Regions from separate parts of the Homo sapiens genome. Here all the other regions are linked to region 1. The links come from fine-mapping of genetic effects on gene expression. A gene starts in region 1. Each other region holds a variant in brackets. All regions are shown on one strand. Distances are from middle to middle.

Region 1 (4,243 bases):
AAATAATTCTAATACAACGTTGGCCTCAGGTAGCTAATATTTCCTATGTTTGCCTCTGTAGTCCATAAGTGTGAATTTTTTTTTTTTTTTTTTCTGGAGACTGAGTCTTGCTCTTTCGCCCAGGCTGGAGTGCAGTAGCGTGATGTTGGCTCACTGAAACCTCCGCCTCCCGGATTCAAGTGATTCTCCTGCCTCTCCCTCTGGAGTAGCTGAGACTACAGGCACCTGCCACCACGCCTGGCTAATTTTTGTGTTTTTTATTAGAGACAAGGTTTCACCATATTGGACAGGCTGGTCTCGAACTCCTGACCTCATGATCCACACGCCTCATGATCCAAACTGCTGGGATTACAGGCGTGAGCCATCGCACCCGGCAAGATTAATCTTTTCGTTAAACATGTAATAGAAAGTTACCCCGAAAATCATCTAGACCTGGCTAGTTTTGAATATGTGGGAAACTTAGCCTATTCGAGTTTTCTATTTTTTCTCGGTCTAATTTTGGTATTTGATGTTTTCCCAGATTTTATACTTCATCTAAGCTTTTCAATTTGTTGGCATTTATATATATATCTATAGTTATTCTCCCCTTAATTTGTGTCCTTTCATTTTTTATGTTCTTGAACAGATTTGGCAGTGATACATCAAATTGATAATTTCTTTCAAATAACGTTAGTTTTTGTTAATATCTATGTTGGTTTTAGCGTTTATATTTTAATTCTTTTCCTTCTTTGTGTTTACTCTCCTGGCTTTTTGGTAATATGTGTGTTCCACACACACACAAAAGCAATGGATTAAATTTCTTATTACTTACTATATTAAACATTTAATTACCGTGCTATAATTTATAGCCTGTAATATGTCACTCTTGCTTTAAAATGCAGTAATTATATTAAATATAATTATTAAGTACAGAACTAATAAAAGGATACCATCATGATTTTTAAAATTCAAACAGAGTAAATGTTCCCTTTGAGACTACCTATGCTCAGAACTGATGGATTAGCTGGCACGACCCAGACCGATAAACTGGCTCATCTGACCTAGTGTCCCCCAACCCAGGAACTGACTCGTGCAGAAAGACAGCTTCCACTCCCTGCGATTTCATCCCTGACCAATCAGCACTCCTGGCTCAGTGGCCTCCCCCAACCCACCAAATTGTCCTTAAAAATTCTGCTCCCCAGTGCTGCTCGGGGAGACTGATTTCAGTAATAATAAAACTCCAGTCTCCCATACAGCCGGCTTTGCGTGACTAAGTCTTTATTTGCAATCCCCCTGTCTTGTATCAGTTCTGGCTAGTCAGCGGGCAAGGTGAAGGCTTTCCTTGGGCGGTTACCATCCGAAGCTTTAATTTTAAGTATAATGGCAAGCTGTTGGAAAGCTTTTTTTTTTTTTTTTTTTTTTTTTTTTTTTTTTTTGAGATGGAGTCTGGCTCTGTCGCCCAGGCTGGAGTGCAGTGGCGCGATCTCGGCTCACTGTAACCTCCGCCTCCCGGGTTCAAGCAATTCTCTGCCTCAGGCTCCTGAGTAGCTGGAACTACAGGCGCCCGCCACCACCACGCCCGGCTACTTCTTGTATTTTTAGTAGAGACGGGCGTTCACCGTGTTAGCCAGGATGCTCCCGATCTCCTGACCTTGTGATCCGCCCGCCTCGGCCTCCCAAAGTGCTGGGATTACAGGCGTGAGCCACCCCGCCCGGCCTGGAAAGCTTTTTAAGTTCGGAAAGTAATACGATCTGGATTTCTTTTCTTTTATTTATTTATTTATTTATTTGAAAAAATGTCTCGCTCTCTTGCCCAGGCTGGAGTGCAGTGGCACGATAAATCACAGTTCGCTGCAGCCCCGGGCCCAAACAATCCCCCCGCCTCAGTCTCCGAAGTAGCTGGGACCACAGGTGTGTGCCACCACGCCTCGCTAAGTTTTTAAAATTTTTTTAATTTTTCATTTTTTAATTTTGTAGAGACGGGGAGGAGGAAGAGGGTCGGGGGCGGGGGGGGGGGCGCCTCCCTATGTTGCCCAGCCTAGTCTCGAACTCCTGGGCTTAAGAGATATCCCACCCCTTCGGTCTCCCAAAGTGCTGGGATTATAGGCGTCAGCCACCACCATCATTGGAAGCTAGCTAAGCCTAGGCTGGGCAGATACTTGGACACTTTGAGGGGAGAAGGGAGGGGAAGAAGTTGGAAGGGGGAACGGAAAACCACTCTCCTGGTAGCAGTCTCTGCCCACAACAAACCTTGCCTTCTGCCCTTAAGGAAAATGGCGCCTGGCATAGATGCGCTTCCGGCCACGGAGCCAAACAGAACAGAGGAGGCAAGAGGCCGGAAGTGACCGCCCTTTGCCACTCCCCCTGCCTCCTCTCCGCCTTTAACTTCTCGGGAAGATGAGGCAGTTTGGCATCTGTGGCCGAGTTGCTGTTGCCGGGTGATAGTTGGAGCGGAGACTGTGAGTGCCGGCTGCCTCGACAGCACGTTTGCGACGCTCGGAGTGACCTTCGAGCGACTGGGGACCGGGGGCGGGAGTCGTGCATGCAGCGTTGTGTGACGAGGCGCCGCCCGCCGCGGTCCTGTGGGAAAGGAGAGAGCCAGCTGTCGGGCGAACGGGGCTGGCGGCCGAGTCGAGCCCACGGAGCCCACGAGGCCGTGCTCGGGGGTGGGATTGGGGGATCCGGACCTAGACGGTCGTGCGCGGGGCGGGGGTGGGCTCTGGCCCTGACTCCTGCGCCCGGTGTGGGAAGGTGGGAGGCCTTTTCTAAGGCAGGTGTTCACACCGGCCGGACCGGGGCGTTACCCCCACCCGGCTTTTCCCACGCAGCTCCTTCGCGCGGTCATTTCTTGACTCTCTGGAAGAATCCGCCTTCTTTATGGCCACTGTTCCTTTCCATGTACACACCAGGATTAGACCGTGATTGTTTGTCTTTGGTGTCTTTTTCTTGAGAAACCACCTATGCTTTCTTAAACTTATAGTCCTTGAAGTTTCTGGTACTTTGGCTGGAAGCGTTAATGCCCTCTTGAAGCCTTACCTTTCTAAATGTCAGCCTCACATTGTGATCTTAGAATTTTATTTCCTCACTCTGCATATCCACTCCTACTCACCTAGAGCTTCAGGTTGAGAAACTTAGTAACTTCCTTATTGTGTGTGAATTTGGCTTCGCCTCACTAACCCTGTTCCCTGATGTACTTTAGAGTCACATGCAGTGACAAACTTAGTCACAATTAGTTTCGTCTTCACCAAAGGGAAATTGAGTAGAAATTGCAACCAAGATTTTGGCTAATAGATTTCACTTATTTTAGTGAAATATCATTCAAAAGTCGTCTCTAACTGTCTGACTAGAACACTCCCAAAAAAGAATTACCTAAAAACATTTTGCCAGCATAATTTATTTCATTGGGGAGTTGATGAATGTCACTGGTGTGTCATCAGTTTGCATGTCTATCATCCACTTTAGTTGGTGCTTTTCTAACTTTATCTCCCTCTAGTAGCATAATGGCAGAACCTGTTTCTCCACTGAAGCACTTTGTGCTGGCTAAGAAGGCGATTACTGCAATCTTTGACCAGTTACTGGAGTTTGTTACTGAAGGATCACATTTTGTTGAAGGTTAGTTCTTCTTAAGTTTTTAAAGTAATTACTGTTGAAAATATATAAAAGTGCTTATTCTTTCAACGTTAGTTATTGAACACATGTATAGGGCATTATACTGTATACTATGAGAAGTACCATAATGAATAAAACCCCTTTCTAACCTCCAGAAGGGGAAAATTAAATGGTATTAATAACAACTAAGAACTTTAGTATATTAATAGCTCATTTAATTTTCATCACCACTAGGTGATGAGAAATAGCTATGTTAATAGTTCATTTAATTTTCATCACCACCATCTGTCATTTTAAAGATGAAGAGACGAAGTCAAAGAAAAGTTAAACAGTTTGCCCAAGATCACACAGCTAATAAGTGCCCAGACAAAAAATCAGGCAGTCCACATTTAACCATTATACTTGTCTCCTCCCCAATTTAGCAGTTAAGCCAAGACCTCAGACATATCTCATTCTCTCAAATGAGGCTGAATTGCAGTGGAAAGGGGGAAAAAGGAGTTTCATAACTGTTAAAGGTGATGAGGAATGTCATGTCTTACTAGGGAATACTTCTTTTTTTTTTTTTTGAGACAGAGTCTTGTCTTGTTGCCCAGGCTGGAGTGCAGTGGCATGTTCTTGGCTCACTGCAGCCTCCACTTCCTGGGTTCAAGCGATT
Region 2 (4,243 bases), 62 kb after region 1:
ATGCCACTGCACTCCAGCCTGGGTGACAGAATGAGACTGTCTCAAAATAAGTAAGTAAATAAATAAATAAGATCATTCCTACAGCTGCTCCATCTTACTACCTTACTACCATCTTACTATGAAAGTTTATAAAGGTCATGGTGAAGGGAAGAGAAACGCAGCTGGAGCCCACTGGCCTCCCTGAGTTGAGGAGAAAGCACTGGGAATCCAAGAAGTCCACAGCAGCTAGAGTTCACAGAGAGTGTCAGAGAGGACAATGCTTGGCAAAGAGAAAACTCCAGAGGCATGCTGAGGACATCCTTTAGGTAGTCAACTGAGTACCGATCAGCAGAGCCGTGTGAGAAAACTAATCAAGCTGCAAAAGACACCCAAAAAGATTACAGGAAACAAACCCTGGTGTGTACATAGGACAAAAATAATGCCTATCCCCTCCAGACAGAGGGAAAACCTCATAATAACCTCATTATACACCGGAAAAACCTCGTAATTTCTTGAGAAGAGGGGTTTTAAGTCTTTTGCCTCACCAGTGGGGCAAAATTAAGCACACACGGTGTGACTCTGGTCCCATCTAACAAAACTTACATGCAAACCCTATAATGATCAAATAGTTTCCAAGTAACTTAACTTGGCCAGTCTGATTTTAGCTATGCCCCAGAGCAAATCTAAATAATATTTTTATGAATATAAAATTATCTAGCATCCAACAAGGTAAAATTCACAATGTCTGGTATCTAATAAAAATTCACCAGACATGCAAAAAAGCAAGAAAATATGACCTATAATTAGGAGAAAAATTAATCAGTTGAAAAAAACAGAAAAAGTCACAGAAGATAAAATTAACAGACAAGGACAACAACGTCTGGGATGAAAAGTGCACTGGATGGGTTCACGGCCGATTAGATACAACAGAAAAGACATATGAAGGCAAAGCAATAGGACCCATCCAAAGTAAAATACAGAAAGAAAAATATCCTGAACAATAAGATGAACAGAACATGAGTGAGCTCTGGGAAAACTTCAAGTGGTTTAATGTCTATGTAACTTAAAGTCTCCAAAGGAAGGAAGAGAGGAGACAGAAAAAAAAATCTGATTAGGGGCTCGGTGCGGTGGCTCACGCCTTTAATCCCAGCATTTTGGGAGGCCGAGGCAGACAGATCACCTGAGGTCAGGAGTTCAAGACCAGCCTGGCCAATGTAATAAAACCCCGCCTCTACTAAAAATACAAACAATTAGCCGGGCATGGTAGTGTGCACCTGTAGTCCCAGCTACTCAGGAGGCTGAGGCAAGAGAATTGCTTGAACCCGGGAGGTGGAGGTTGCAGTGAGCCGAGATCATGCAACTGCACTCCAGCCTGGGTGACAGAGCGAGAGTCAGTATCAAAAAAAAGAAAAAGAAAGAAACTCAAAAAAAAAAAGAAACTCATAGATCCAAACACAAGAAACATGAAGAAGGGCCAGGCATGGTGGCTCACTCCTGAAATCCGAGCACTCTGGGAGGCTAAGACAAAAGATCACTTCAGCCCAGGAGTTCGAGACCAGCCTGGGCAACATGGCAAGACCCTATCTCTGCAAAAAATACACACACGCACACAAAATAGCCAGGCATGGTGGCACGCACCTGTATACCCAGCTACTTGGGCCCAGGGAAGTCGAGGCTGCAGTGAGCCATGACTGCACCACTGCACTCCAGCCTGGGTGACAGTGAAACCCAGTAAAAAAAAAAAAAAAAAATTATGGCTTTAAGTTCCAGTATTAGAAATTTTAAAAAGTTCCAAATCAATGACATCAGCTTCTATCTTAAAAAAACTAGAAAAAAGGCTGTGCACAGTGGCTCATGCC[T/C]GTAATCCCAGCACTTTGGGAGGCCGAGGTGGGTGGATCACCTGAGGTCGGGAGTTCGAGACCAGCCTGACCACATGGAGAAACCTCGTCTCCACTAAAAATACAAAAAAATCAGCCGGGTGTGTTGGCTCATGCCTGTAATCCCAGGTACTCGGGAGGCTGAGGCAGGAGAATCACTTGAACCTGGGAGGCAGAGATTGTGGTGAGCCAACATCACGCCATTGCACTCCAGCCTGGGCAACAAGGGAGAAACTCCATCTCAAAAACAAAAAAAAAAAGGCCAGGGGCTGTGACTCACGCCTGTAATCCCAGCACTTTGGGAGGCCGAGGCAGGCAGATCACGAGGTCAAGAGATCGAGACCATCCTGGCCAACATGGTGAAACCCCTTCTCTACTAAAAATTCAAAAATTAGCTGGGCGTGGTGGTGTGCGCCTGTAGTCTCAGTTACTTCGAAGGCTGAGGCAGGAGAATTGCTTGAAACTGGGAGGCAGAGGTTGCAGTGAGCCGAGATCGCACCACTACACTCCAGCCTCGCAACAGAGCAAGACTCTGTCTCAAAAAAAAAAACAAAAAAACAAAACAAAAAAAAAACTAGAAAAAGAAAAGCCAGTGAATCCGAGTGATCAGTTTGGCTTTGTTTCCCCACCCAAATCTCATCTTGCATTGTAATCCCCAAATCCCCACGTGTTGTGAGGGAGCCGGTGGAAGGTAACTGAATCATGGGAGTGGTCTCCCTGCAGGCTGTTCTTGTGACAGTGAGTTCTCACGAGATCTGATGGTTTATAAGGGGCTTCCCCCTTCGCTCGGCACTCATTCTCTCTCCTGCTGCCCTATGGAGAGGTGCCTTCCACCATGATTGTAAGTTTCCTGAGGCCTCCCCAGCCATGCAGAACTGTGAGTCTATTAAACCTCTTCTCTTTATAAATTACCCAGTATCAGGTATTTCTTCATAGCAGTGTGAGAACGAACTAATACACCAAGTAAGCAGTAGAAAAGAAATAATAAAGATGAGAGTGAAAGATCAATGAAACAGAAAAACAACAGAGTATCACTCAGAACAAAAGCTGGTTCTCTGAGGAGATAGTTGATTTATTTATTGATTGATAGATAGATAGATAGATATGTTCATTGCTAAGGCTGCCATAACAAAGCACCACAAGCTGGGTGGCTTAAACAAAAGGAATGTATTGTCTCACAGTTCTGGAGGCTAGAAACTTGAAACCAAGATATCTGAGGACTGTGACAGAAAGATGTGTAATCTTCTCACTGTCCTGTAGATGACTGTCTTCTCCTGTGTCTCTTCACATCATCTTCCCTCTATGCTTGCCTGTCTCCAAACTTCCCCCTTTTATAAGGACAATAGCCACGCTGGATTAGTGTCACCCAATCCATTATGACCTCATTTTAACCAATTATATCTGGACCAACCTTATTTTCAAATAAGGTCACGGTCTGAGGTCCTGGGCTTTAAGACTTCAACATATAAATTTTAGATGGGCACAATTCAACCCACAGTCCCAGACTATCAGGAAAAAAGTAAAACAGAAATTACCAACATCATAAATGAGAGCAGGATATCCTGTAAACTCTATAGATATCAAAAAAATTGAGAGTATAATAAATAGCTGTAAGCCAATAAATATGACAATGTAGATGATATAGATAAAATCTTTGAAAGTTCACTCAAAAAGAAATGGATAACCTAAATAGCCCCATATCTAATACGACATCACATTATACACTGTAAATATATACAATTTGTCAATTATACCTTAATAAAGTAGGGGCTGGGGAGGAAAAAAGCCTTGATCTATGATAGAAATAACTGAATCTGGCACTGAGTTAATGAAATTAATAATCACAGTTTACAATTATTAAGTGTCTTTACTGCTGAGAGACACCTAGAGGCCCCACAAATATAGAGCCAAATGGAAAATTTCAGCAACTCACTCAGTGAATATATGGGGCTCAGCCACAAATGAAACTATTATAGTTTCATTTCTAAGCCTAACATTCTAAACAGTGTGAGAAATGTCACTGTTAAAATCATCACTGAATTTCAAAATATTATAAAAATATAATGAAGTTGGTCATAATTTCATCTGAAAAAAGGAAAACTGTTATATATACAGTATCTTTGTTTGAATCATTTTATTCCAAAAGGAAGCCTCTATATTTACTTATATTTGTAAAAGATGGTACTAATGTTTTGACAAAAAAAAAAAAACAGGAGAAAATCAATGTAAACACACCATTTTAAGTGGCTGAAAAAAAACCACACGAACATCTCAACAGACGGACAAAAAGTATTTGACAAAAATTCAACACTCATTCCTCATAAAGACTTTAGCAAATTATGAGAGAACATCTCAACTTGATAAAAGTAATGGGCTGAGAGATAGAG
Region 3 (4,243 bases), 79 kb after region 1:
TTCATCCATCCCTGTTTTTACTAATCTTTTCTTCTCTTTTCTTGTATCATCTTTGTAGAGATTTTATTTTTGGAGACAGGGTCTTGCTCTTTTGTCCAGTTAGAATGCAGTGGTGTGATCATGGTTCACTGCAGCCTCGAACTCCTGGACTCAAGCAATCCTCCCACCTCAGCCTCCCGAGTAGCTGGGACTACAGGCACAAGCCACCACACCCGGCTAACGTTTTTTTGTTTGTTTTTGTAGAGACGGATCTCCCTATGTTGCCCAGGCTGGTCTTGAATTCCTGTCTCAAGCAATCCTCCCGCCTCAGCCTTCCAAAATGCTGGGATTACAGGCGTGAGCCACTGCCCCCAGCCTACTCTTCACTTTTAAATTAGACAAATTCTTCAGAAACAGCTATTGTGAGAGGTTCAAACTGGGAAAAGCAGCAGCTGTGTTCCAAGTTATGAGATTCTCCCTGCTTACCCTTGTACGTTGCTTTAGCCTTTACTTTTCTCTGGGAAAAGAAGTAGGCAGCTGCCAGGCTACTCACAACTCAAAGCCTCTTTCCTCCACCCTGCTTACCGCCAGGCTTCCTACAAGATGGCATGTCTATATCCTTTCATTTTTAGCTCTGCCTTCCTTGATATTTCTCAGTGCTAATGAAGTCCAAGGAAGCATCTGTTCCCATTGTTCCAAAGAAGGGACCGTGGTGCTGTCTCTTAGAGAGTGCTCCCCACGCAGACGCCTCCTCTCAGAGCCTCCCCACGTGCTGCTGCTTCACTGCATTTGGCAACTCCTCTCCATCCATTACGCTTTGAAGTTCTAGTGTCTGTTAATTTTGTTAAAGATGGAGTTTGTAGTTGTTTCTTATCCTTACTGTTTTGAGTTGATTCCAAGAGTAAAAGGTGTCAGACATGTTTTGATTCTGCCACTGATAGTTTTGTTTTGTTTTTCTGAGACAGAGTCTCGCTCTGTCACCCAGGCTGGAGTGCAGTGGCGTGAGTTCAGCTCGTTGCAACCTCCGTCTCCAGGGATCAAGCCATTCTCCTGCCTCAGCCTCCCAAGTAGCTGGGATTACAGGTGTGCACCACCACGCCTGGCTAATTTTTCTATTTTTAGTAGAGACAGAGTTTCACCATGTTGGCCAGGCTGGTCTTGAACTCCTGACCTCAGGTGATCCACCTGCCTCAGCCTCCCAAAGTGCTGGGATTACAGGCATGAGCCACTGTGCCCACCCTAATGATTTTCTGCAACCTAATTAATGTATAGATTAATATTTCCCTAGTGTGACATTATATTGTGACACTATCTACATTATGGTTTTGTACCAAAAATCTATGATTCTAGGCATGTAAATAAAAAGAGAATTATGTCTGTCTTTCATAGAGGCCATTCTTCTACATAGGTACTTGTTCGCAATGAATTTTGAAGAGTTCTTTCGAGACATGGTAAACACAAATAGACCTCAGTTCTTACTTCGCCATGTGAGAGAAAAAAAGACCATTTCTAGCCTTAGAAATCATTTAATATAGACTGATAAACTAATAGGCAAATTTTGTAGATTCCTGGTACTAAATAAGTGCTAACATTTTGAAATGAAAAGGTTTTACCTGAATCTGATTCCGCAGTTGTTCTGCTTCTTGCCTCAACTGTTCCAGTTCGCTCATTTTTTCAATTTGTTTACCTCAGGAGCTAATGAGTGAAAACAGCTGTTAAAAAACAGAGAGCAAGAGAAAGATTCAGTTCTCTACTTACATCTTAATCTGGTTTTACAATACTGACATATAACTTCTTTTTGGACCTACTGAAATTCAATGGAGGTAGTCAATTATTAAAGGAATTTAAAGATGCTTAGTAAATATAGAATGAGGTTATTTACTGAAGGGTTGTATACAAGAACATGATCAGAGGATGGAGGAGAAATTCCAAGTTGTAGTATTCAAGGCTGAATTATGGGGAATTAGTACCAGAATGGAGTCTGGTGAGAAATATTTTACAACAGTTCAGAGGACACCAAGAGACTTCCCCACTTGGATGTCTGGATTGGCACCTAACACAGTACCTCAAAACTGAACCCCACCCCACCCCCAAGCCTTCCCCATCTCAGGAAACGGCAAGACCATCCTTACTTACAATTGTTTAAGCTAAAAATGTGGGAGCAGTCCTGTTTTAATCATAGCCTCCCCATCGAATCCATTTGCAAATCATGTCAGTTATTCCTTAAGAAATTATCCAGGTTCTAATTCTGATTTCCTCCACTTCTACTGTCTGGGTCCACATCACCATGACCATCTCTCACCTGGTCTCCTTTCTGCTGCCCTCGACCACTCTCTGGTCTAATTAGAGCAACTAGAGATCCATTTAAAATACAAGTCACTTTAAATCCTCCAATGGTTTTCCACTCCACTAAACTCTAT[C/T]TTGACCCACAGACCCTGTATCATTACACACACACACCCCCCTCTGACCTCATGTATCACTCTCACACTCACTCTGTTCCAGTTGTTCAAAGACTTCTCTGATGTTCCCTGAACATGCTAAGCAGGCCCCAGTCTCAGTGTCTTTGCATTTGCTCCTGCCTCTGCTTGGATAGCTCCTGTCTCTGATTTTATAATCCCTTGCTCCCTTACTAAATCTGCCCAAATGTGATCTTCTCAGTGGGACCTTTGCTGATAGCACATGTGCACCCAAACATGCTCCTCTTACCCTGTCTTGTTTTTCACTATGAGACTCAACACCATCAGCATGTATTTACTTACTTGTGATCTCTTTCCTTCTGATAAGATGTAAAGGGTCTGGTGTGGTGGCTCACGCCTGTAATCCCATCACTTTGGGAGGCTGAGGTGGGTGCATCGCTTGAGGCCAGGAGTTCAAGACCAGCCTGGGCAACATGGCGAAACCTCATCTCTACCAAAATTACAAAAATTAGCTGGGTGTGGTGGCACATGACTGCAATCCCAGCTATTTGGGAAGCTGAGGCAAAAGAATTGCTTGAATCTGGGAGGAGGAGGCTGCAGTGAGCCGAGGTCACACCACTGCACTCCAGCCTGGGTGACAGAGTGAGACTCTGGCTTTAAAAAAAAAAAAAAAAAAAAAAGATGTAAAGTTCCTTCAGGTAGGGTCTCTGTTTGCTTTATTCTTTGTTGTATCCCCATCACTTAAGATACTTTGGTCTCCAGTAAATAAAGCAACCTGAAATAGCTTAACAAATAAAGGAATATTCATTCTAAGGATTTAGGATGAATCACAGAACCAAAAGACAGGAATATTACTACCTCAAAAAGACACTAGAGGCTAGAAACTGGGAGTATTCTTTCTCTACCTGTCCTGGTCTCTTTTCTCTTCTTATCTTCCTTGGTTTTTTTCTTTCTACAGAATGACTTTTTCTGCTCCCCTAAGTACAAAACCCAAGCCTATAACTTTTTAGGTCAAGATTGTAGCCCGAAATGACTGTCCTAAGTCCAAATTCCTATAAAAGATTGATTCCCCTCATGAGAGAGAATTTGGTTTTGATGTCTATGCTACAATCGCATCAACTATGGTACAAATATCTGTTTATTATGTTCAGACAAAAAGAAAAGAAAAACCAGTATCTATTTATTCTTTCAGAATTCACTTTGTATTTATTTTGTCCAATTAAAAAATAAATGTATTGGGATTGACTGGAATGGCATTAAGGTATATAAAACAGTTCCAGAAGAACTAAAATCATTCTAATATTCCATTTCCAATTTAATATTGTGGCATATTTCTCTGTTTATCCAAATTTTCCATCTTTATTTATGAGTCTTAACCATTCCCTGATAAAGTTTGATTGTTTAACAATTTAGTATGCATCTCAGAGAGGGCCAGACTGGACAGATTACAGCCGGTCTGGAATCCCATTCCGCTGAAGTGAAGACAAGCAGCATGCGGGCTCTTTAAAGCCGCAACCTTAGCTGCCCTTGCTGACCATTCCTGAGATATCCCTGGCCCCACAGTCCTAGAAACTCTCATTATTTTGATACCTCTTTATTTTTAGGGTCCCAAAACATTTTGGGTAAGCACAACTAGTTTACATCCCTCCTACTAACTAAAACACTAGAAAGAACTATCGAGGGACCCTAAAGGGCCTCGGGACTTTTTAAAAATTTGCAGTTATTATTATTACTATTATGGTTATTATTTGTAGAGATGGGGTTCTAGCTATATTGCCCTGCCAAAGCACTAGGACCAAAGGCATGAGTCGCTGAGCCCAGGCTGGGTCTCAGAACTTTTAAGCTTA

The links. PIP is the estimated chance that this variant, and not a neighbour inherited with it, causes the effect. A credible set is the group of variants that fine-mapping cannot tell apart.
Region 2: its variant is the best candidate, but not a certain one, in a credible set for the expression of MFN1 in whole blood (INTERVAL, PIP 0.50).
Region 3: its variant is the best candidate, but not a certain one, in a credible set for the expression of MFN1 in subcutaneous fat (GTEx, PIP 0.65).

Annotation. Positions count from the first base shown.
Region 1 is chr3:179,345,373-179,349,615 of GRCh38, forward strand. It overlaps MFN1 (mitofusin 1), which reads left to right and starts at 2,337. Exons shown (of 18, transcript NM_033540.3): 1 at 2,337-2,438; 2 at 3,473-3,591. The coding sequence starts at 3,480. RefSeq lists enhancers at 2,046-2,575, 2,909-3,128 and a silencer at 2,629-2,788.
Region 2 is chr3:179,407,414-179,411,656 of GRCh38, forward strand. The region is part of intron 8 of GNB4 (G protein subunit beta 4); the gene reads right to left. Among named protein-coding and RNA genes, the nearest start is that of GNB4, 42 kb to the right of the region's middle. The variant T/C (reference allele first, on the strand shown) is at 1,839.
Region 3 is chr3:179,424,552-179,428,794 of GRCh38, forward strand. It overlaps GNB4 (G protein subunit beta 4), which reads right to left. Exons shown (of 10, transcript NM_021629.4): 2 at 1,593-1,691. The coding sequence starts at 1,649. Among named protein-coding and RNA genes, the nearest start is that of GNB4, 25 kb to the right of the region's middle. The variant C/T (reference allele first, on the strand shown) is at 2,400.